Regions from separate parts of the Homo sapiens genome. Here regions 1, 3 and 4 are each linked to region 2. The links come from fine-mapping of genetic effects on gene expression. A gene starts in region 2. Each other region holds a variant in brackets. All regions are shown on one strand. Distances are between the middles of the regions. Region 1 overlaps UBXN8 (UBX domain protein 8). Region 2 holds the start of GSR (glutathione-disulfide reductase). Region 3 overlaps GSR (glutathione-disulfide reductase). Region 4 overlaps GSR (glutathione-disulfide reductase).

Evidence for each region. PIP is the estimated chance that this variant, and not a neighbour inherited with it, causes the effect.
Region 1: its variant is fine-mapped to the expression of GSR in whole blood (TOPMed, PIP 0.98).
Region 3: its variant is fine-mapped to the expression of GSR in whole blood (TOPMed, PIP above 0.99).
Region 4: its variant is fine-mapped to the expression of GSR in whole blood (TOPMed, PIP above 0.99).

Annotation. Positions count from the first base shown.
Region 1 is chr8:30,760,397-30,765,545 of GRCh38, reverse strand. It overlaps UBXN8 (UBX domain protein 8), which reads right to left. Exons shown (of 8, transcript NM_005671.4): 6 at 4,617-4,658; 7 at 2,199-2,273. Among named protein-coding and RNA genes, the nearest start is that of UBXN8, 19 kb to the right of the region's middle. The variant T/C (reference allele first, on the strand shown) is at 2,773.
Region 2 is chr8:30,725,375-30,730,523 of GRCh38, reverse strand. GSR (glutathione-disulfide reductase) reads left to right here and starts at 2,678. Exons shown (of 13, transcript NM_000637.5): 1 at 2,678-2,994. The coding sequence starts at 2,689. It also overlaps a transcript of UBXN8 not described here. RefSeq lists enhancers at 806-1,330, 3,093-3,780 and silencers at 2,418-2,507, 2,578-3,017.
Region 3 is chr8:30,693,266-30,698,414 of GRCh38, reverse strand. It overlaps GSR (glutathione-disulfide reductase), which reads left to right. Exons shown (of 13, transcript NM_000637.5): 7 at 1,936-2,035. Among named protein-coding and RNA genes, the nearest start is that of GSR, 32 kb to the left of the region's middle. The variant T/C (reference allele first, on the strand shown) is at 2,502.
Region 4 is chr8:30,675,794-30,680,942 of GRCh38, reverse strand. GSR (glutathione-disulfide reductase) reads left to right here. Exons shown (of 13, transcript NM_000637.5): 12 at 1-39; 13 at 1,274-2,877. The coding sequence ends at 1,423. Among named protein-coding and RNA genes, the nearest start is that of GTF2E2, 20 kb to the right of the region's middle. The variant G/T (reference allele first, on the strand shown) is at 2,800.

The DNA of each region.
Region 1 (5,149 bases), 35 kb before region 2:
ATATATATATATAAAATTTTTTTTCCCGAAACATATAATGGCACAGAAATTTGAGACCAGCCTGGGTAAGATGGCGAAACCCAGTCTCTACAAAAAATACAAAAATTAGCCAGGCCTGGTGGTGCATGCCTGTAATCCCAGATACTCAGGAGGTGAGGTGCAAGGATCACCTGAGTCCGGGGAGGTTGAGGTTTCAGTGAGCTGTGATTGCACCACTGTGCTTCAGCCTTGGTGACAGAGTGAGAACCAATCTTACAAAAATAAATAAAAATAATGGTAAATTATCTGTCAGGAACACTGATCTTATTTACATTCACATTAACAAGTTATGATGGCCAGGCACAGTGGCTCACACCTGTAATCCCAGCACTTTGGAAGGATGAGGCAGGAGAATCATTTGAACCCAGGAGTTCAAGATTGGCCTGGTCAGCATAGTGAGACCTGTTCTATTTTTAAAAAAATAAAAAATATTAAAGGTTTTGTTTTGTTTTGTTTTTTGTGATGGAGTCTTGCTGTCTCCCAGACTGGAGTGCAGTGGCACGATCTTGGCTCACTGCAACCTCTGCCTCCTGGGTTCAAGCGATTCTCCTGCCTCAGCCTCCTGAGTAGCTGGGACTACAGGCACGCACCACCACGTCCGGCTAATTTTTGTATTTTTAGTAGAGACAAGGTTTCACCATGTTGGCCAGGATGGTCTTGATCTCTTGACCTCATGATCCGCTTGCCTCAGCCTCCCAAAGTGCTGGGATTACAGGCGTGAGCCATGGTACCCGGCCAAAAAACTATTAAAGTTTTAAGAATCCCTGTTTTCCCAACGCATTTGCCAAATCTGGGTACTATTTCTTTTTAATCTTTGACAGTCTAGTTAAGTAGAAAATACTGTTTCATTTTATTTGTACTTCATTGATTCTATGTGAGGCCAAACATTTTTTTCATATATTTATCTATCACTGAGTCTTCTTCGGGAAATCATGATATTCATGTGTTTCTTTCCCTGCCAGTCTACTGAGATGTTTATCTCTTCCTTGATTTAAGTTCCTTATAAAAAATAACTATCATACATAAATAGTAAAATGGGCTGGTCGTGGTGGGTCACGCCTGTAATCCCAACACTTGGGTAGGCCAAGGTGGGTGGATCACTTGAGCCCAGGAGTTTGAGACCAGCCTGGCCAACATGGCAAAACCCCATTTCTACTAAAAATAAAAAATTAGCCAGGAACGGTGGTGTGTGCCTGGTCCCAGCTACTCACAGGCATGAGCCACCGCACCTGGCCGGAATTTTTATGTAGTCAAATCCAGTATTTTCCATTACGGTTTATAGCATTCTTGTCATTGAAGGTTAAATACAACAAACAGGACAGAAAATTATTTACATATATTTTTAATGCACACATAATTATATGTTTAAATGTACTTAGAGACGGAAATATACCAAAATGTTAGTAACTGGTTTTGGCATGAGACTACAGATCAAATTTTTTTCTCGCTCTACTTTTCCATGTTTTCCAAATTATCACTAACAACCACAGTATTGTTTTTATTATTTAGTATTTTTGAGACAGGATCTTGCTCTGTCACCCAGGCTGGAGTGCAGTGGCATGATCTCGGCTCATTGCAACCTCTGCCTCCCAGGTTCAAGTGATTCTCCCACCTCAGCCTCCCGAGTAGGTGGGATTACAGGCATCCGCCACCATGCCCGGCTAATTTTCTTATTTTTAGTAGAGATGGGGTTTAACCATGTTGGCCAGGCTGGCCTCGAACTCCTGACCTCAAGTGATCTGCCCGCCTTGGCCTCCCAAAGTGTTGGGATTACAGACATGAGCCACTGCACCCAGCCCACAGTATTGTTTTTAAAAGAAAAAAAAAAGTCTAAAGTTAATAGTGGCTACTTCCTAAGGATTTAAAAGCATCTTGCCCATCAAATTATGATAATGTAATGAAAGCAAACAACAAAGGAAAAATACACCAAAGGGAAAGAATGAGTAAAATGTGAATGCAGAGATCACAATTCAGAGACATCCGGCAGGCATGCCTAGTTAGCCAAATTTCTGCAACGTGGAGTACCTGGAAATGTCCTTTATCCATACCTGATGGGAGATGCAGATGACAGTGTGATCACACCTTCCCCCACGGCATGTGAATAAACTACTGCCATATTCAACAAAGATATTTCTCAAAATGTGAATTCCTTCACTTACCTGTGAGCTGTAGGACTTCAAAAACCTTCTCCTCAGGACATTCCCACTGGGACATCGGAGAGCAACAGTAACTACCTAAGGAAGAAATATTCACATAAGAACTCCGATCCATTGCTCTTTGCAATTCCTTTCATTCCATAAAACAGCTAAGCAGCTAAAAAGGACTTAGATACTGCTTTGCTAATTATTAAAAGACATAGGTAGGGCATGGTGGTGGCTCACGCCTGTAATCCCAGGACTTTGGGAGGCTGAGACAGGCAGACCACTTGAGGCCAGGAGTTTGAGACACCCCCCGCCATAAAAAATAGAAAAATTAGCTAGATGTGGGTGCACGCCTCTAGTCCCAGCTACTTGGGAGGTTGAAGTGGGAGAATAGCCTGAGCCCAGGGAATCTGAGGCAACAGTAAGCTGTGATCACGCCACTGCACCCAGCCTGGATGACACAGCAAGACTCTGTTTAAAAAAAAAAAAGACATTATAAAATGAGAAGATAACACATTAGTGTTTATTTTTCACCTGTCAAGAAACCCTTTATGACTAACATGATCATTAACTGTGCTGGGAGTTATGTGGG[T/C]ATCATATTAGGCATAAGTGGTGGTTTTAGAGCAGCACCCCTCCCTCTCAGGAAAGCTATGTTAGAAAATATTTCCAATCAGGCCAGGTGCGGTGGCTCAGGCCTGTAATCCCAGCACTTTGGGGGGCCAAGGTGGGCGGATCACTTGAGGTCAGGAGTTCGTGACCAGCCTGGCCAACACGGTGAAACCCCATCTCTACTAAAAATACAAATATTAGCCAGGCATTGTGGCGTACACCTGTGGTCTTAGCTACTCAGGAGGCTGAGGCAGGAGAATGGCTTGAACCCGGAAGCAGAGGTTTCAGAGAGCCGAGATTGTGCCATTGCACTCCAGCTTGAGCAATGCGGTGAGACTCAGTCTCAAAAACAAAAACAAAAACAAAAACAAAAAACTTTCCCATCAGGCACAGTGACTCACACCTATAATCCCACCACTTGGGGAGGCCAAGGTGAGAGGATCACTTGAGACCAGGAGTCGGACCAGCCTGAGCAAAACACTGAGACCCAATCTTTACCAAAAAAAATTTTTTTTTAATTTAAAAATTAGTCAGGGCTGGTGGCACATGCCTGCAGTCCTAGTTACTTGGGACGCTAAGGTAGGAGGATCACTTGAGCCTGAGAGGTTGAAGATGCAGTCAGCTATGATCGTGCCAAGACACTCCAGCCTATGAGACAGAGCAAAAGCCTGTCTCTTTAAAAAAAAAAAAAAAAAGGTTTCCAAGGAGTATAACTGTTGCCGAGCCCCAAGAAGTAGGTTCTCCTTCTGGATTTATTGCCCAAATGACTTAATGGCTTTCAAGACACGTATGTGCTCCCCATACATTAGGAAGTGTCTATAAGTTGGGTGGCCAGTGACAGGAAGGCATCACGGACTATGACCCAGCAACTGGGAAGAAGACAGCTTGACACAGTTGGGGATCAGTCCCAGCCCAGCCCCCAACAGCAAACCACCCCTAAATTAAAACATCTACAAAGTAGTCGCCCTCTTCATTTTCTCCTTTGAAAAGGAGAACTGCAATTTGAAGTCATTTGCCTAGTTTTTTTTCCTTTTTTTTTTCCTTTTTGTAGCGACAGCGTCTCACTATGTTGCCCAGGCTGGTCTTGAATTCCTAAGCTGAAGTAATCCTCCCCTCTTGGCCTCCCAAAGTGCTCGGACATATGCCTATTTTGATTCTGTTTTAGTAAGCAACGCATTTTCTGACCTAAAGTTCTGGAAAAGCCCACGTGTCCTATGCCTGAGGCAGTGGGTGGGTGTAATCCCAGCGCTTTGGGAGGTCAAGACAGGCAGATCACTTGAGGTCAGGAGTTCCAGGCCAGCCTGGCCAACATGGTAAAACCCCGTCTCTACTAAAAATACAAAAACTAGCCCGATGTGGTGGCAGATGCCTGTAATCCCAGCTACTTGGGAGGCTGAGGCAGGAGAATCACTTGAACTCAGGAGGCGGACGCTGCAGTGAGCTGAGATCATGCCATTGCACTCTAGCCTGGGTGACAAGAGCAAGACTTCATCTCAAAAAAAAAAAAAGACAACTCAGCAGACAGCAGGCTTGCAAAATAGTACTCATGTTGAGGAATTTGATACTACACTACATTCCAAGTAAGACCCAGCTACCCAGGAGGCTGAGGCGGGTGGATCACTTGAGCCCAGGAGTTCAAGGCCAGCCTAGGCAACATAGTGAGACCCTGTCTCTATGTTCTAAAAAAGACCTAGTTACAGTATAATCACATGAACACTTATGCTATCACTTCTTTCTAAACCCAAGTTTAGATAAGACATATTTAATGGATGTTAAGCAAAGAAAATAGAAAATAAGTTTAATTTTCGAAGAGAAAAATAGACTTACTTCTTCTGCTGTTTGAGAAGGTTCTTCAGGTAAATCAGGAATCTAAAGAAAAGTATTGGTAAGAGGAATGTAAACATGTTCAACAAGCAAAAGTGTCAATGAGAAGAGTTCCTCTCAATACAGAGTTTAGACACACATCTAAGCTTACTTATATCTTTTCTTCATACATCTATAAAGAGTTTATAATGAAAATAGTTCAATTAATAAACATTTTTGGGCAAGTGTGCTAAAAATTAATCATAAAAATAGGATTTGAGATAATAGCTCCCAATCTATACATACTTAAAGGATTTTGCTTCTATTATGTTCCAAAATATTACTAATATATAAAAATGCACTATGTAAAAAAGCAAGCCAGATGCAGTGGCTCATGTCCGTAATCCCAGCAACTCAGGAGGCTGAGGCAGGAAGATCACTTGAGCTCAGAAGTTCAAGGCCAACCATTGCAACAAAGCAAGACCCTGTCACTTTAAAAAAAAAAAAAAATATATATATATATATATATATATGATTGTGTATGCATATACACATAC
Region 2 (5,149 bases):
GGGGTTTTGGTAATCAGCCGGTGCATGTTCCCCTAGCCACTTAGTTGCTGCTTGGAGCACTCTCCGCCTTTCATCTGTGTTAAAGAGGAACATGAGCAACTGGTGGCAATCAGCCCAAGTGGGGTTATGGGTCTGGATAATAGTTTGGAGCAAATCAATTAGAGCTTGTGGCTTTTCAGTACAGGACGGGGTATTGTTTTTCCAGTTGAGAAGGTCGGCAGAGGTGAAGGGCTGGCACACAAAAACACGCCTCTCCGCCATGTGCCCATCCTCATCTATTCCAGTATACCGCTGCTCTCTCAAGGGCATTTGTATCCCCGTTTTGGGTCTTAAACGAGCTGCCAAGGGAGGGGTTTCTCCTGAGGCTTCACCTCCTCTCTTGTCTACTCTGGGTGGCCTAGGGATATGTTTGTCTTGCGGAGGCACAAGCACTGTGGACTCAAAAGTGGGGAGCCTCTCTCCCTGGTAAGGGGAGGGCACCACTGGGATGACTTTTGCCATCTCCTGCAATGGATCGTCTGATGTTGGGTCGAACAGAACTTCAGGAGTTGATTTCCCTCGGTGGGTGGAGCGGGATCCTTCCTTGACTATCTGTCCCTTTGCTACTAGCACTGCTGCTGCCTGCCCTCTTACCCACTGTGGTAACCAAGTGTCTATGTATGGAAACTGGTCTGAGTGTCCTGACTTACCAGTTACCTTGTGCCATACCTTAGAAACAAGGGACCTGTCCAGGCTTCCTTCTGATGGCCAACCCACTTCTAATGTTGGCCAATCTATTTCACACAAAGTTCTAAGTTTCCCTGGTGTCATAGTAACCCCATAGTCGCCATTAAATCCCTTCTTAAAATTTTTCAACATAGTTCCTAGAGGAGTAGGCTTATTTTGTGTCTGACCCGTGTTTCCTCAAGACAAAACACCAAGCTCACACCAAACGCACACCACAAAACAAAGAATGGGTAAAAAGGGCACACACGCACTTTTTCAGTTTTCACCAAACCAGAATCAAAACCAAAATCAGAGTATCCAGTAATCCAAGCCAGGTCAAACCAAAACCAAAGTGTCAAGCAATTCAAGTCAAGTCAAAAACAAAAACCAAAGTGCCAGTACAGGCACGCCGTGGGTGATCAGGCCATGCTTCCACTCAAATGGAGTGGGCAAGTTCCGAAGACCAGTCTTACCAAGTTTCAAATGTCCGGACTCCAAGTGCCTGTTCCTTCCCGGTGTTCAGCCACTGCGTTGATACTCCACGGGGGCCTGCCACGCACTGCTCTGACTAGGCGTTCCACCGGGGCAATTGCCTACCCAGGAGCGCTCGCAGGATCCGCGTCGCTCAAGCTGGCGGGAGTTCCCCGCAGGGATGCTCCACAGGGCAGGCCTAAGCCCCCTAAGGGGCTGCCTCGACTGTCCGTCAATTACCTCGCTTCCCAGTCAGGGAACCAAGAAATATAGCAGGATGAGTCACAGACAAAACTCCTCAGACACCAGATTAAAGCAGGAAGAGGTTTTTTATTCGGCCAGGAGCGTTGGCAGACTCGCGTCTTGAGAGCCGAGCTCTCCGAAAAAGAAATTCCTAGCCCTTTTAAGGGCTTACAACTCTAAGGGGTCTACGTGAAAAAATCATAATAGATCAAGTAAGCGTGGGAAACGTGACTGGGGGCTATATACATCAGCTAACAGAACAAAAAGTTTTACAGTGCTTTCTCATACAATGTCTGGAATTTACAGATAACACCAATAGTTTTGGTCAGGGGTTAATAATATTATTATTATCTTAGCCACCAGGGCCAGGTGGTGGTGCCAAGGTCGTCTAGCTATTTATCTTACTTCTGTTTCTTTCCAACTTTTTGCTTTCTCCCTTTTCTCCTGTCTTATAAACTAGGGAAAAGGGGAGGTTGGGGAGAAACTGAGAAGGACAACAGGAGAAGTGGTGACCTCATACCATAATCCTAGCATTTTGGGAGGCCGAGGTGAGAGAATCGCTTGAGGCCAAGAGTTCCCTACCAGTCCTGGTAACATAGTGAGACCCTATTTCTAAAAAAAAAATAAAAATAATAAAAAAAATAAAAAAAAAAATTAAATAAATAAATAAATAAATTAGCTGGGCGCTGTGGCGGGCACCTGTAGTTCCCAGCTACCGGGAAGGCTGAGGAGGGAGGATCGCTGCTTGAGCACAGTAGGTGGAGGCTGCAGTGAGCAGAGATCGCATCACTGCACCCCTGCCTGGGGGAGAGTGAGACCCAGTCTCAAAGAAAAAGCAAGAACAAACAAAAGTGGTCTCTGGAACAAACCTGGACAAACAACCCTTCGAATAGAGGCAAATTTCTCTTCCTGGAGAAGCCGTGCCACTGGCAACTCCCCAGGGGGCCAGCTCGGGAAAAGCCAGCTGAAACGAGAGGACGTTCACCGTTCCTCGCCTCGATCCACCGGACTTCAGAAGGCTACACGCGGCAGGCGCCGCTCGGGATCCAGGGGCCGGGGTGAGAACGGAGGCGGAGAAACCCCTCAGGCTCCGCCACCGGGGCGGGGAACTGGGAGGCGGCCCCGCCTCTGGGCATCCTCCTGGGTCTTGCCTAGCGGCGGGCGCATGCTTAGTCACCGTGAGGCTGCGCTTGCCCGGGGCCCGCGCCCCCCTACCCCGGGGACCGCCCCCGGGCCGCCCGCCCCACTTGGCGCGCCACTTCCGCGTGCATGGCCCTGCTGCCCCGAGCCCTGAGCGCCGGCGCGGGACCGAGCTGGCGGCGGGCGGCGCGCGCCTTCCGAGGCTTCCTGCTGCTTCTGCCCGAGCCCGCGGCCCTCACGCGCGCCCTCTCCCGTGCCATGGCCTGCAGGCAGGAGCCGCAGCCGCAGGGCCCGCCGCCCGCTGCTGGCGCCGTGGCCTCCTATGACTACCTGGTGATCGGGGGCGGCTCGGGCGGGCTGGCCAGCGCGCGCAGGGCGGCCGAGCTGGGTGCCAGGGCCGCCGTGGTGGAGAGCCACAAGCTGGGTGGCACTTGCGTGAGTACCGCCGGTTTGTTCGGGCGGGGGGCGCCTCTTTGTCTCGGTCTTTCGGGGGACAGCCTGTGCTCGTTCCTATGGCGATCCTGTCCCCCGGCGCTGGGCTTTCCTCTTTTCCACCCCCGCAACTCCCCATTCCGAAGCCAGGAACCCAGCAGGTGGAGGAGAGAGAGGCGTCCGGGGGCTTCTCTGCGGCCCGCAAAGCCGAGCCAGCGTCTGCTTCCGCACGGATGCGATATTGACCAGGGCCGGGGCGGGTTAGATTAACCTTCCTCCATCCTCACTTGTCCAAGTGGGAGAGGATTGGATTCTGTTCTTGACCGCGTGAAACACAAAACTGCATCTGGGAACATTGCTGGTGGCCTGTGTGTAGGGACGAGGGTGACGGTGCCATAGATCCTGGTTCTTGAAAAATGTAGATCCTGGTTCTCCCGTTTCAAGGGCAGAATGATTTATAGCGGTTGTTGTCAACCTTGGCTACACATTCGAATCACCTGAGGGTGCCTGGATTCCCGACTTAATTGGTCTGAGGTGCACTTGGGCTTTGGGATGTTTCCCGACTTAATTGGTCTGAAGTGCAGCCTGGGCTTTGGGATTTTCGGGTGATCTGAATTGCAGCCAAGGCGACCTTGAGTAGGTGAGTTCTCAGAGCTTTTGTTTTGTCTTGGTTTTATGTGGATTGCAAAACTAAAAACAGAGGGATGTAAATCCTGAGATTTACAAAATTCATAATTTTTGAAAATAAGGGTTTTTGTTTGTGTTTGTTTTTTGAGACAGGGTCTTGCCCTGTCACCTAGGCTAGAGTGCAGTGGCCATCATAGCTCACTGCAGCCTCGAACTCCCGGGCTCAAGGGATCCTCTCACCTTGGCCTCCTGAGTAGCTGGAACTACAGGGGGCTAATCACCACGCCTAGTTAATTATTATTATTTTTTGTAGAGATGGGGGTCTCGCTATGTTGCCCTTGCTGATTTCAACCTCTTGGACTCAACCGATCTTCCCGCCTCAGCCTCCCAAAGTGCTGGGATTACAAGCCTGAGCCACTGCACTCATTCTAAAAATAAATGTTGTTTCCAAGTTATTGGTGTGCCCGCCCTTTTCTATCACAAGATTTGGGTGTTGACGATTAAAATGCTGTATCCAAGAGGAACCTGGGATTTGGGATAGGTTCTCTAAATTCCTTTGGAGATGAATATTTAAATTATGTCAAATTGGGAGCTCTTTAAGGACAGGGATGGGCTTCTGTGTTTGTGTGTCTCTTATCACCTTAAAATCCCTTGCTCAATAAGCACTTGTGCAATGAATGAAACTAAAAATGGACAGTTATGAAAAGGTTGACTTCATTGTTCAGTGCCTTGGAGATGAACATGGAGATGAAGAGAAAGGAAAAATCTCTGTTAATTATCAACTTGCACTTTGACACCATAGTCCAGACAGAAGGTTAGAAATCTGTCTCTCCAGAAGGCAGATTGTGGGGTGCCACTAAGTGCCCCCCTCCCACACCTCATGAGAGTACTTGATCACTTCTCACTTCTGTTCTGCTCTCCACATTTTCTCTGTCTTCCTCTTTCTCTACTTATGTTATAATGTGCTTCAGAGGTTCACCCACTTTACCTTCCTGTTATGAATTCTTTTTTTTTTTTTTTTTTTGAGAGGGAGTCTCACTCTGTCACCCAGGCTGGAGTACAGTGGTGCAATCTGGGCTCACTGCAACCTCTGCCTCCCAGGTTCAAGCAGTTCTCCCGTCTCAGCCTCTCGAGTAGCTGGGAATGCAGGTGCATGCCACCATGCCCGGCTAGTTTTTGTACTTTTAATAGAGATGGGGTTTTGCCATGTTGGCCAGGCTGGTCTCAAACTCCTGACCTCTGGTAATCCACCCACCTTGGCCTCCCAAAGTGCTTGGATTACAAGCATGAGCCACCACACCCAGCTAATTTTTTATTTTTAAAATGTATTTATCTATTTTTTTTTCGATATGGAGTCTTGCTCTGTCACCCAGGCTGGAGTGCAGTGGTGCAATCTCGGCTCACTGCAACCTCCGCCTCCTGGGTTCAAGCAACTCTCCTGCCTCGGCCTCCCAAATTGCTGAGATTACAGGTGCCACTACACCCAGCTAACTTTTGTATTTTTAGTAGAGCCAGGCTGGTCTTGAACTCC
Region 3 (5,149 bases), 32 kb after region 2:
ACATATGTGAGGATGTAGTGAGACATACAGTCATGACTCATTATGTTTGGATAATGTAATTTCATTCCGGACTCACCCTCAAAGAAGTTTCATTATAAATAGCTGTTCATTAGCAATTTTAAATATTTACATTTATGCATGTCATCAACAAAAGGCTCTGAAACACAAGAAAATGAATTTACGATTGATACGTGATTCTTCAAGTCTACTTTATCTTTGTTACGGTGTTGGTGAATAAGTAATAACTGGGCAAGTACATAAATAATGTAGGGAAGATAGCATGATTTAGTTTTTGCACTGAGGGGGCTTCTGTTTGGATGGAGCATGAACCTTGTGGAATACTGTGCATGAGTAGTCCTGGGGCTGCAACGAGGTAAAGAGAAATCTTTTAGGGATTCAGCCGCCTGAAAGATCAGTTCCAGAAGCCAGGCACAGTGGCTTATGCCTGTAATCTCAGCACTTTGGGAGGCCTGAGGCGAGCGAATTTCTTGAGCCCAGGAGTTTGAAACCAGCCTAGGCAACACAGCACAACCCGATCTCTGCAAAAAAAATACAAAAATTAGCTGGGTGTGTTGGCACATGCTGGTAGTCTTGGCTACTTGGGAGGCTCAGGCCGGAGGATCACTTGAGCCTAGGAGTTCGAGACCAGCCTGGGCAACATAGGGAGATATTGTCTCTGCACAGAGTTTTTTCCTCTCTGAAGAAATGAGGCTAAAGAGCTTTAAAAACAATGAAAAATACATTTCCCTTCTGTGACGGGATATTAGGGATTTTTCTTTTCTTTTGAGATAGGGTCTTTTGCTCTGTCACCCAGGCTGGACTGCAGTGGTATAGTCATAGCTCACTGCAGCCTCCACCTCCCAGACACAAGTTATCCTCCTGCCTCAGCCTCTCAAGTAACTGGGACCACAGACATGGACCATCATACTTGGATAATTTTTATTTTTACTTTTAGGGGTTTTTTGTTTGTTTGTTTGTTTGTTTGTTTGTTTTGTTTTTTTGAGACAGAGTCTCGCTCTGTTTCCCAGGCTGGAGTGCATTGGTGCAATCTTGGCTTACTGCATCCTCTGCCTCCTAAGGGCAAGCGATTCTCCTGCCTCAGCCTCCCGAGTAGCTGGGATTACAGGCACACACCACTGCACCTGGCTAACTTTTTGTATTTTTAGTAGAGACGGGGTTCACCATGTTGGCCAGATTGGTCTCGAACTCCTGACCAGGTGATCCACCCACCTCAGCCTCCCAAAGTGCTAGGATTATGGGCATGAGCCACCGTGCCTGGCCTTACTTTTATGTTTTTGTAGAGATGGGGTCTCACTTTATTGCCCAGGCTCAAAGGAATATTTTCTACTTAAAGTTGCAGTGGTATCCAGGATTGGATCTTGGAACAGAAAAAAAAAAAGATTAATAGAAAAACTGGGCTAGGCAAGGTAGCTTACACCTGTAATGCCGGCACTTTGGGAGGCCAAGGTAAGAGCATTGCTTGAGCCCAGGAGCTAAGACTAGCCTGGGCTAACATGGTGAGACTCTGTCTCTACAAAAGAAAATATAAAACTTAGCTGGGTGTGGCGATGAATGTCTGTAGTCCCAGCTACTCAGGAGGCTGAGGCTGGAGGATGGCTTGAGTCCTGGAGGTTGAGGCTGCAGTGAGCCGTGTTCACACCACTACACTCCAGCCTGGGTGACAGAGACCCTGTCTCAAAAAAAAGGGAAAAAGTGAAAATCTGCAGTCTAGGGTTTAGTCATTAGTAATGTACCAATGTCAATTTCTTATTTTGACAAAGGTATCCTAATTAAGTAAAATATTAACTTTAGGGAAAACTGATCAAGGGGTATAATAAGGGAAATCTCTGTACTATCTCTGCAACTTTTCTGTAAACGTGAAATTATTCCAAAATTAGTTTATTTAAGAATACTAACCCTCTGCTCGCGTCTCAGCCGCAGCGTCATTGTTGGTGCAGGTTACATTGCTGTGGAGATGGCAGGGATCCTGTCAGCCCTGGGTTCTAAGACATCACTGATGATACGGCATGATAAGGTAAATGCCACCTTTTTCTTTTCGCTTTTCTTGATGTTAATTTAAAAAATGAAGAATTTTTTCTTATGTTGTCGTTAAATACTAGGGTGCAAAGCAGGTGTGGGGGTCATTTGGTTGGTTTCATATGGTGCTGTATCCAAGTTACCTGAATTTGGCCTATATCCCTCCCAGTTGCTGGTTGATGATGATAATTTTGAGTTGGTCAAATTGGCTGGTAATTTCATCACTAAGTGGTAGATAGTCATGAGATGCCCTCATAGGGAGACGTGGGGCCTAAACATAACTATTAGCTAAATTAAACAGACTGTTAGGTTAATTTATTTTTTTATTTTTATTTTTTGAGACAGAGTCTCACTCTTTTGTCCAGGCTGGAGTGCAGTGGCACCATCTCGGCTCACTGCAACCTCTGCCTCCTGGGCTCAAGCGAGTCTCATGCCTCAGCCTCCCAAGTAGCTGGGATTACAGG[T/C]ATCCACCACCATGCCCAACTAATTTTTGTATTTTTAGTAGAGATGGGGTTTCACCATGTTGGCCAGGCTGGTCTCGAACTCCCTACCTCAGGTGATCCACCCACCTCGACCTCCCAAAGTGCTGGGATTACAGGTGTGAGCCACCAAGCCCCGCCAGGTTAATTTATTAATTTCTGGAAATCAATTTTATATGATCAAGTAATGTTAGATTGTTACCACTCATTCTAAACAATTTACTAAATTCTTTGCATTAAAGCAGGGGTGTCCAATCTTTTGGCTTCCCTGAGCCACACTGGAAGGAGTAGAATTGTCTTGGACTACACATAAAATACACTAACACAAACAATAGCTGATGAGCTAATAAAAAAATAAATTGCAGACTGGGCACAGTGGCTCACGCCTCTAATTCCCAGCACTTTGGGAGGCTGAGGCGGGCGGATCACTTGAGGTCAGGAGTTGGAGACCAGCCTGGCCAACATGGTGAAACCCCATCTCTACTAAAAATCCAAAAATTATCCAGGCATGGTGGCAGGCAACTAATCACAGCTACACGGGAGGCTGAGGCATAAGAATCGCCTGAACCCAAGAGGCAGAGGTTGCAGAGAGCCAAGATTGCACCACTGCACTCCAGCCTGGGCAACAGAGCAAGACTCTGTCTCAAAACAAAAAACAAAACAAAACAAAAAAACTGCAAAAAAATCTCATAGCATTTTAAGAAAGTGTACAAATTTGTGTTGGGCCACATTCAAAGTCATCCTGGTCCGCACACGGCCTGCAGGCTGCAGGTCGAACGAGCTTACATTAAAGGGAATCTTGTAGATCATACACTTGAAATTTTTTTTTTTTTTAAGAGACAGAGTCTTGCTATGTTACCCAGTCTGCAGTACAGTGGCATGATCATAGCTCACTGCAGCCTTCTGAGCTCATAGGATTTTCCTGCCTCAGCCTTCCAAGTAGCTGAGGCTACAGGTGTGGGCCACCATGCCCTGACTAATTTTTTTTTTTTTTTTTTTTTGAGACAGAGTCTCACTGTGTTGCCCAGGCTAGAGTGCGGTGGCACATCATGGCTCATTGCAGCCTCAACCTTCTGGGCTCAAGCGATCTTCCCACCCCAGCCTCCCAAATAGCCAGGACTACAGGAACATGCCACCACACCCAGTGAGGTTTCACCATGTTGCCCAGGCTGGTCTCAAACTCCTGAGCTCAAGTGATCCGCCCACCTCGGCCTCCCAAAGTGCTTGGGATTACAGGCATGCGCCACCTGACTACTTTTTATATATTTTTAGAGATGAGGTCTTACTATGTTGCCCAGGCTGGTCTCGAACTCCTGGCCTCAAGCTATCCTCCTGCCTCAGCCTCCCAAGTAGCAGGTGGAGTTCAAGACCAACCTGGGCAACATAGTGAGACCCCCATCTCTACTACAAAAAATTAAAAAATTAGCAAGGTGTAGTGGTATACGCCTGTAGTTGCAGCTACTTGGGAGGCTGAGGTAGGAGAATCACTTGAATCCAGGAGGTCAAGGCTGCAGTGAGCAAAGATTGTGCCACTGCACTCTAGCCTGGGCAGCTGACTGTCCCTAACAAACTTGTGACTTAGGCAAGCCACATAATGCCTTTGGGGCCTAGTTCTGCAGGGACAGAATTTATCAGATCCCTGACTACCAAGATGCTATGATTCTAATTCTTATGTGAGCAGATGGAGGGAGACAGGGATTCTGAGAATCCTAGGCAGTATGTACTTTAAGGAACTTTCTCTGTGGCTTTGAAACTGGTTATATAATTAGCTCCAGGAGATTGAGGTCCTGAATAATATTTTTTCATAGGTAAGTATTATTTTGCTAGAATATATCCAGCAAATTAGAAGGATGGGGAAAGGTAGAGGAGTTCCTAGCTTGAATTTATATATAGATAAGTAAATAAACTGCAGCAGTCTGTCAATAAAGGGGGTAATTCTTGCATCTGTAAAATTGGCTACTTTGCAGAGAGCCACATCTACTTGGGCTTCCTGCCCTCTCCCATCCCAAATGCACCAAGTTCATTCTCCCTTTTTTTCCCAGTGTTAACTCCATTTTAGAGCTACTCTGTGGGTGGGCATGGTGGCTCACACCTATAATCCCAGCACTTTGGGAGGCCTAGGTGGGCGGATCACCTGAGGTCAGGAGTTCGAGGCCAGCCTGGCCGACATGGCGAAACCCCGTCTCTACTAAAAATAGAAAAGTTAGCCAGGCATGGTGGTGGGCGCCTGTAATCCCAGCTCCTCGGGAGGATGAGGCGGGAGAATTGCTTGAATCCAGGAGGCGGAGGTTGCAGTGGGCTGAGATGGTACCACTGCACTCCAGCCTGGGTGGTAGAGCAAGACTCCCTCTCAAAAAAATAAAAATAAAAGAACTACTCTGTGAATAACTCATGACCTCCCACCTGAACTCCACATGTGGATGGTCACAGATATATCTCCAAGGCCATACTGTTGAGATTTATGGCTAGACAAGATTTTGCTAGTAAATCTTCCCTTCAATCATATCAGAGGGAAAGCAGACCTTGAGATACGAAAAGTGGAAAGAGAATTTCTGTTCCCTGGACTTAAGGAAAAGAGAAGCAAGCTTTGTGAGGAGAAGACAGTGGACAATGGCTGTCCATTTAACTGTAGG
Region 4 (5,149 bases), 50 kb after region 2:
TGTGTGATGAAAATGGTCTGTGCTAACAAGGAAGAAAAGGTAAGGAAAAATCCAGCAAACTAAATAGTGCCTTGCAAAATGGACAGGGATGGCAGTATTTTGCAGGGGTGGAAAGGAGGGAGACCAAGCAGTTGAGCCTTCTGATTCAACTGGACAGGCCCACTTTGATCTGTCTTACCTGCATTTTGGGGTTCTTCATAATATTTCATCTAGAAGGAGGTTCCACTCCTTTTAAAAAATAAAGACGATGCCAGGCGTGGTGGCTCACACCTGTAATCCCAGCACGCTGGGAGGCCGAGGCAGGCATATCACCTGAGGTCAGGAGTTTGAGACTAGCCTGACCAACGTGGTGAAACCCTGTCTCTACTAAAAACACAAAAATTAGCCAGGCATGATGGTGCGTGCTTGTAATCCCAGCTACTCGGGAGGCTGAGGCAGGAGAATCACTTGAACCTGGGAGGCGGAGGTTGCAGTGAGCCAAGATCATGCTACTGCCCTCCAGCCTGGGAGACAAAGCGAGACTCCATCTCAAAGCAAAAAAAAAAAAAAAAAAAAAAAAAACAGGAGAGGCCAGGGCCAGGCGCTGTGGCTCACGCCTATAATCCTAACACTTTGGGAGGCCAAGGTAGGCGGATTGCCTGAGCTCAGGAGTTTGAGAGTAGCTTGGGCAGCATGGTGAAACCCCATCTCTACTAAAAATACAAAAATTGGCCGGGCATGGTGGTGCCATGAACATTCCTCAGTAGCCTATGATTTCTGGATATTGAATCATGAAGGCTCCTACTTAGTTATTTCTTCATGCCAGTTATCATTCATTCAGTTGATAAACATTATTTGTCATTCTTCTCAAGACTAAGAACTGCTATATAGAGAGGAATAATATGAAGAGCTGGCCATCACCAGAGGCTCTTTATAAGTTCAATTAAGATCACAATATCAGTCAGACACCGTGGCTCACCCCTGTAATCCCAGCACTTTGGGAGGCTGAGGTGGGTGGATCACTTGAGCCCAGGAGTTCAAGACCAGCCTGGCCAACATGGTGAAACCCTCTCTCTGCTAAAAATACAAAATTAGCCAGGCGTGGTGGTGCGCGCCTGTAATCCCAGCTACTCGGGAGGCTGAGGCAGGAGAATCACTTGAACCCGGGAGGTGGAGGTTGCAGCGAGCCGAGATCATGCCATTGCACTCCAGCCTGGGCAACAAGAGTGAAACTCCGTCTCAAAAAAAAAAAAAAAAGAAGAAAGAAAAGAAAATGTTTCTCTTCTTTTCCCAGGTGGTTGGGATCCATATGCAGGGACTTGGGTGTGATGAAATGCTGCAGGGTTTTGCTGTTGCAGTGAAGATGGGAGCAACGAAGGCAGACTTTGACAACACAGTCGCCATTCACCCTACCTCTTCAGAAGAGCTGGTCACACTTCGTTGAGAACCAGGAGACACGTGTGGCGGGCAGTGGGACCCATAGATCTTCTGAAATGAAACAAATAATCACATTGACTTACTGTTTGAGTTTTATGTATTTCTTTATTTTAATCAGGATCTTCTGATAGTGGAAATTTTTAGTACATAATAGAACTTATTTATGGAGTTAGAAATTTGTAGTGTTATCCAGGATTGATTTTCATTTGATCACATCTCACAGTAATTAATATTTTCAAGTTTTTTTTTTATTAACAGCTCTGTGCTAGTTTTTTTTTTCTGTTTTAGCCTCATCCCAAATATAAAGCTTTGTGAAGTACAATTAACTTAATGTACTTGAATGAATAGAACTTGCTACTTTTTTTTTTTTTTTTTTTGAGACAGAGTTTTGCTCTCATTGCCCAGGCTGGAGTGCGGTGGTGCTATTTCAGCTCACCACAACCTCTGCCTCCTGGGTTCAAGTGATTCTCCTGCCTTAGCCTCCCGAATAGCTGGAATTACAGGCACGCACCACCATGCCTGACTAATTTTGTATTTTTAGTAGACATGGGGTTTCTCCATGTTGGTCAGGCTGGTCTCAAACTCCCACCTTCAGGTGATCCGCCCACCTCGGCCTCCTGAGGTGCTGAGATTACAGGCGTGAGCCACTGTGCCAGCTTGCTAATTTTCACAGAAGTTGATGGCAATTCTTCACATGTAAACAGTGCCAGTGCACAGAACCTTTATATATTTTTTGAAGCCAGTACTGTGCTCTGCATATAACAAAGCTGCTTCAAGGATGAGACCTTTTTCTAAAAGCATGTAATGTGAGAAGCCGGCCTGCCTTATTTTCTTTTTTCTTTTTTAATGATTAAAAATAGTTTGTGGCAAGGCACGGTGGCTCAGGCCTGTAATTCTAGCACTTTGGGAGGCCGAGGCAGGAGGATTACTTGAGCCTACAAGTTTGAGGCCAGCATGCACAGCATAGCAAGACTGCATCTCTACAGAGAGTAAAAAAAATTACCCGAGTGTGGTGATGTGCATCTGTAATCTCAGCTACTTGGGAGGCTGAGGTGAGAGGATCACTTGAGCTTGGGTGAGGTGAGGCTGCAGTGAGTCCTGATCATGCTGCTGCACTCAATCTTGGACAACAGAGCAAGACCCTGTCTCAAAAAAAAAAAAAAAAAATATATATATATATATATATTATTTTTATGAGGTGAAGTGCATCAAACTTGGGAAAGATTTGAGGAGGCTGGGAACCTCCTGGAAAACCACTCCTTGAAGAAAGATATGAGAGACATTTAGAAGTGATTCCTGCTTTCAGAAGGAGGTGGATTCAAATACATCAAAAGTCCCTTCCTCTGCTAAGTGTTTATAGTTCAATGAATAATTTCAATATTT[G/T]TATGTGTTCTTGTCATTTTATTTTTTTCTGAAAAACTTCCAAAAATTTGAAAATAAAATTACAGCCTTTTCTTCTTATAAAATTTGTTACTGTGAGCTTTAATTGGTACACAGGAAATTGGTTTATTTTCTAAGGATATTTCACATTGGAGAATCAGTTGCCTGTGCTTACGGGGGTGAAAAGAGAGTTCTCGTATAAAAATAAAGATCGAAGGTATAAAAGAAACATTTAGCAGATTAATGATTGAGTTGGAAGAAAAGCCTAGAAATCACTTAGGTCTTTAACACTTTATTTCTATTAGGTTTTACCAGCTAGTTAAATTTTTCCAGGATTTTCATTAGTCATCCAGTGTTACTGAATACTTTTTTTTTTTTTTTTGAGACAGGGTCTAGCTTTGTCGCCAGGCTGGGGTGCAGTGGTGTGATCTCAGGTCACTGCAGCCTCCCGGGGTCAAGCAGTTCTCCTGCCTCAGCCTCCTGAGTAGCTGGGATCACAGGCACGCGCCACCACACCCAGCTAATTTTTGTATTTTTAGTAGAGATGGGGTTTCACCATGTTGGCCAGGATGGTCTTGATCTGTTGACCTCGTGATCTGCCCGCCTTGGCCTCCCAAAGTGCTGGGATTACAGGCGTGAGCCACTGCACTGGACCCACTGAATTCTTTACTGTGTGTTCTGTTAAGCTTTTACTGACTGTCTTTCTGGTTAGTGATGGCCAGTTACTGAACTGACTTTTTTTTTTTTTTTTGAAACCAAGCCTGGCTCTGTTGCCTAGGCTGGAGTACAGTGGCACGATCTCGGCTCACTGCAGCCTCTGCCTCCCGGGGTCAAGCGATTCTCCTGCCTCAGCCTCCTGAGTAGCTGAGACTACAGGTGCACACCACCACACCTGGCTAATTCTTGTACTTTTAGTAGAGATGGGTTTTCACCGTGTTGGCCAGGCTGGTCTTGAACTCCTGACCTTAGAAGTAATCTGCCCACCTCGGCCTCCCAAAGTGCTGAGATTACAGGCGTGAGCCACCACATCCGGCCTGCACTGACTTCTTAAGTAGGCCCAATGTCAATGAAAGAAAAATATTGTATTAGCAAGGAAGTTATATGTATTGTGGTGGGACAAGAAAATAGGATCCCCAAACTTGGGCATGGACTAATGTAGGCACTTCTCCCCTCTTCCCCTAGCCTAAAAGACAGTGGACCAAGGTTCTAGGCTTCATTCTGCTGGTGGATTTCTCACTGCACAGGCCCCAGCCTTGAGGTGTGCCTCTGTCAGGGAAATGGGAGGCCCTAGTAGCCACATCTATTTTAACATCATGTGTTCTTAATCTCATATTTATCCTGCCTGTGTGCTGGTTCCATAGTAAACCAACAAGAAAGTACAGTACCCTTATCTGAGTTCCTGTCTGCATTCTCATCGGTCCTTGAACTGGCCCAGCCCTTGAGGTGTTGTGGCTTAACAGCCTCTATTACTGAAAGTGCCAAGAAATATATAGCAGCTCACACCTATAATCCCAGCACTTTGGGAGGCCAAGACAGGTGGATCACCTGAGGTCAGGGGTTCGAGACCAGCCTGGCCAACATGATGAAACCCCATCTCTACTAAAAATACAAAAATTAGCTAGGCGTGGTGGCTGGCATCTGTAATCCCAGCTACTCAGGAGGCTGAGATAGGAGAATCGCTTGAACCTAGGAGGCACAGGTCACAGTGAGCCAAGATGGCACCACTGCACTCCAGCCCAGGCAATAGTGTGAGACTCCATCTCAAAAAAAAAAAAAAAAATGCTGGGCGCGGTGGCTCACACCTGCAATCCCAGCACTTTGGGAGGTCGAGGTGGGCAGATCACGAAGTCATGAGATCGAGACCATCCTGGCTAACATGGTGAAACCCTGTCTCTACTAAAAATACAAAAAAATTAGCCGGGCATGGTGGTGGGCGCCTGTAGTCCCAGCTACTTGGGAGACTGAGGCAGGAGAATGGTGTGAACCCAGGAGGCGGAGCTTGCAGTGAGCCAAGATCACACCACTGCACTCCAGCCTGGGTGACAGAGAGAGACTCCGTCTCAAAAAAAAAAAAAAAAAGATATACAAGGCAGCACGTTGTAAAATATGGGCCACATTGTACTTGCACAGTAGATGTTTATTGAAGGAAAGACATGTAACTTGCTTTCAAGTAATCTTATAATCTAGAATGAGAACATTTCTATACAAATAAAGCAATTAAGCACAGGATGACCATATGATTTATTGACTAAAATGGCACACTTTCAAGAGTGAAAGGGGTGTCCTTGACAATTTACACAATTGGTACAGATTAGTACTGTCCTAAACAAATAGGAGATTGCCATCCTCATTA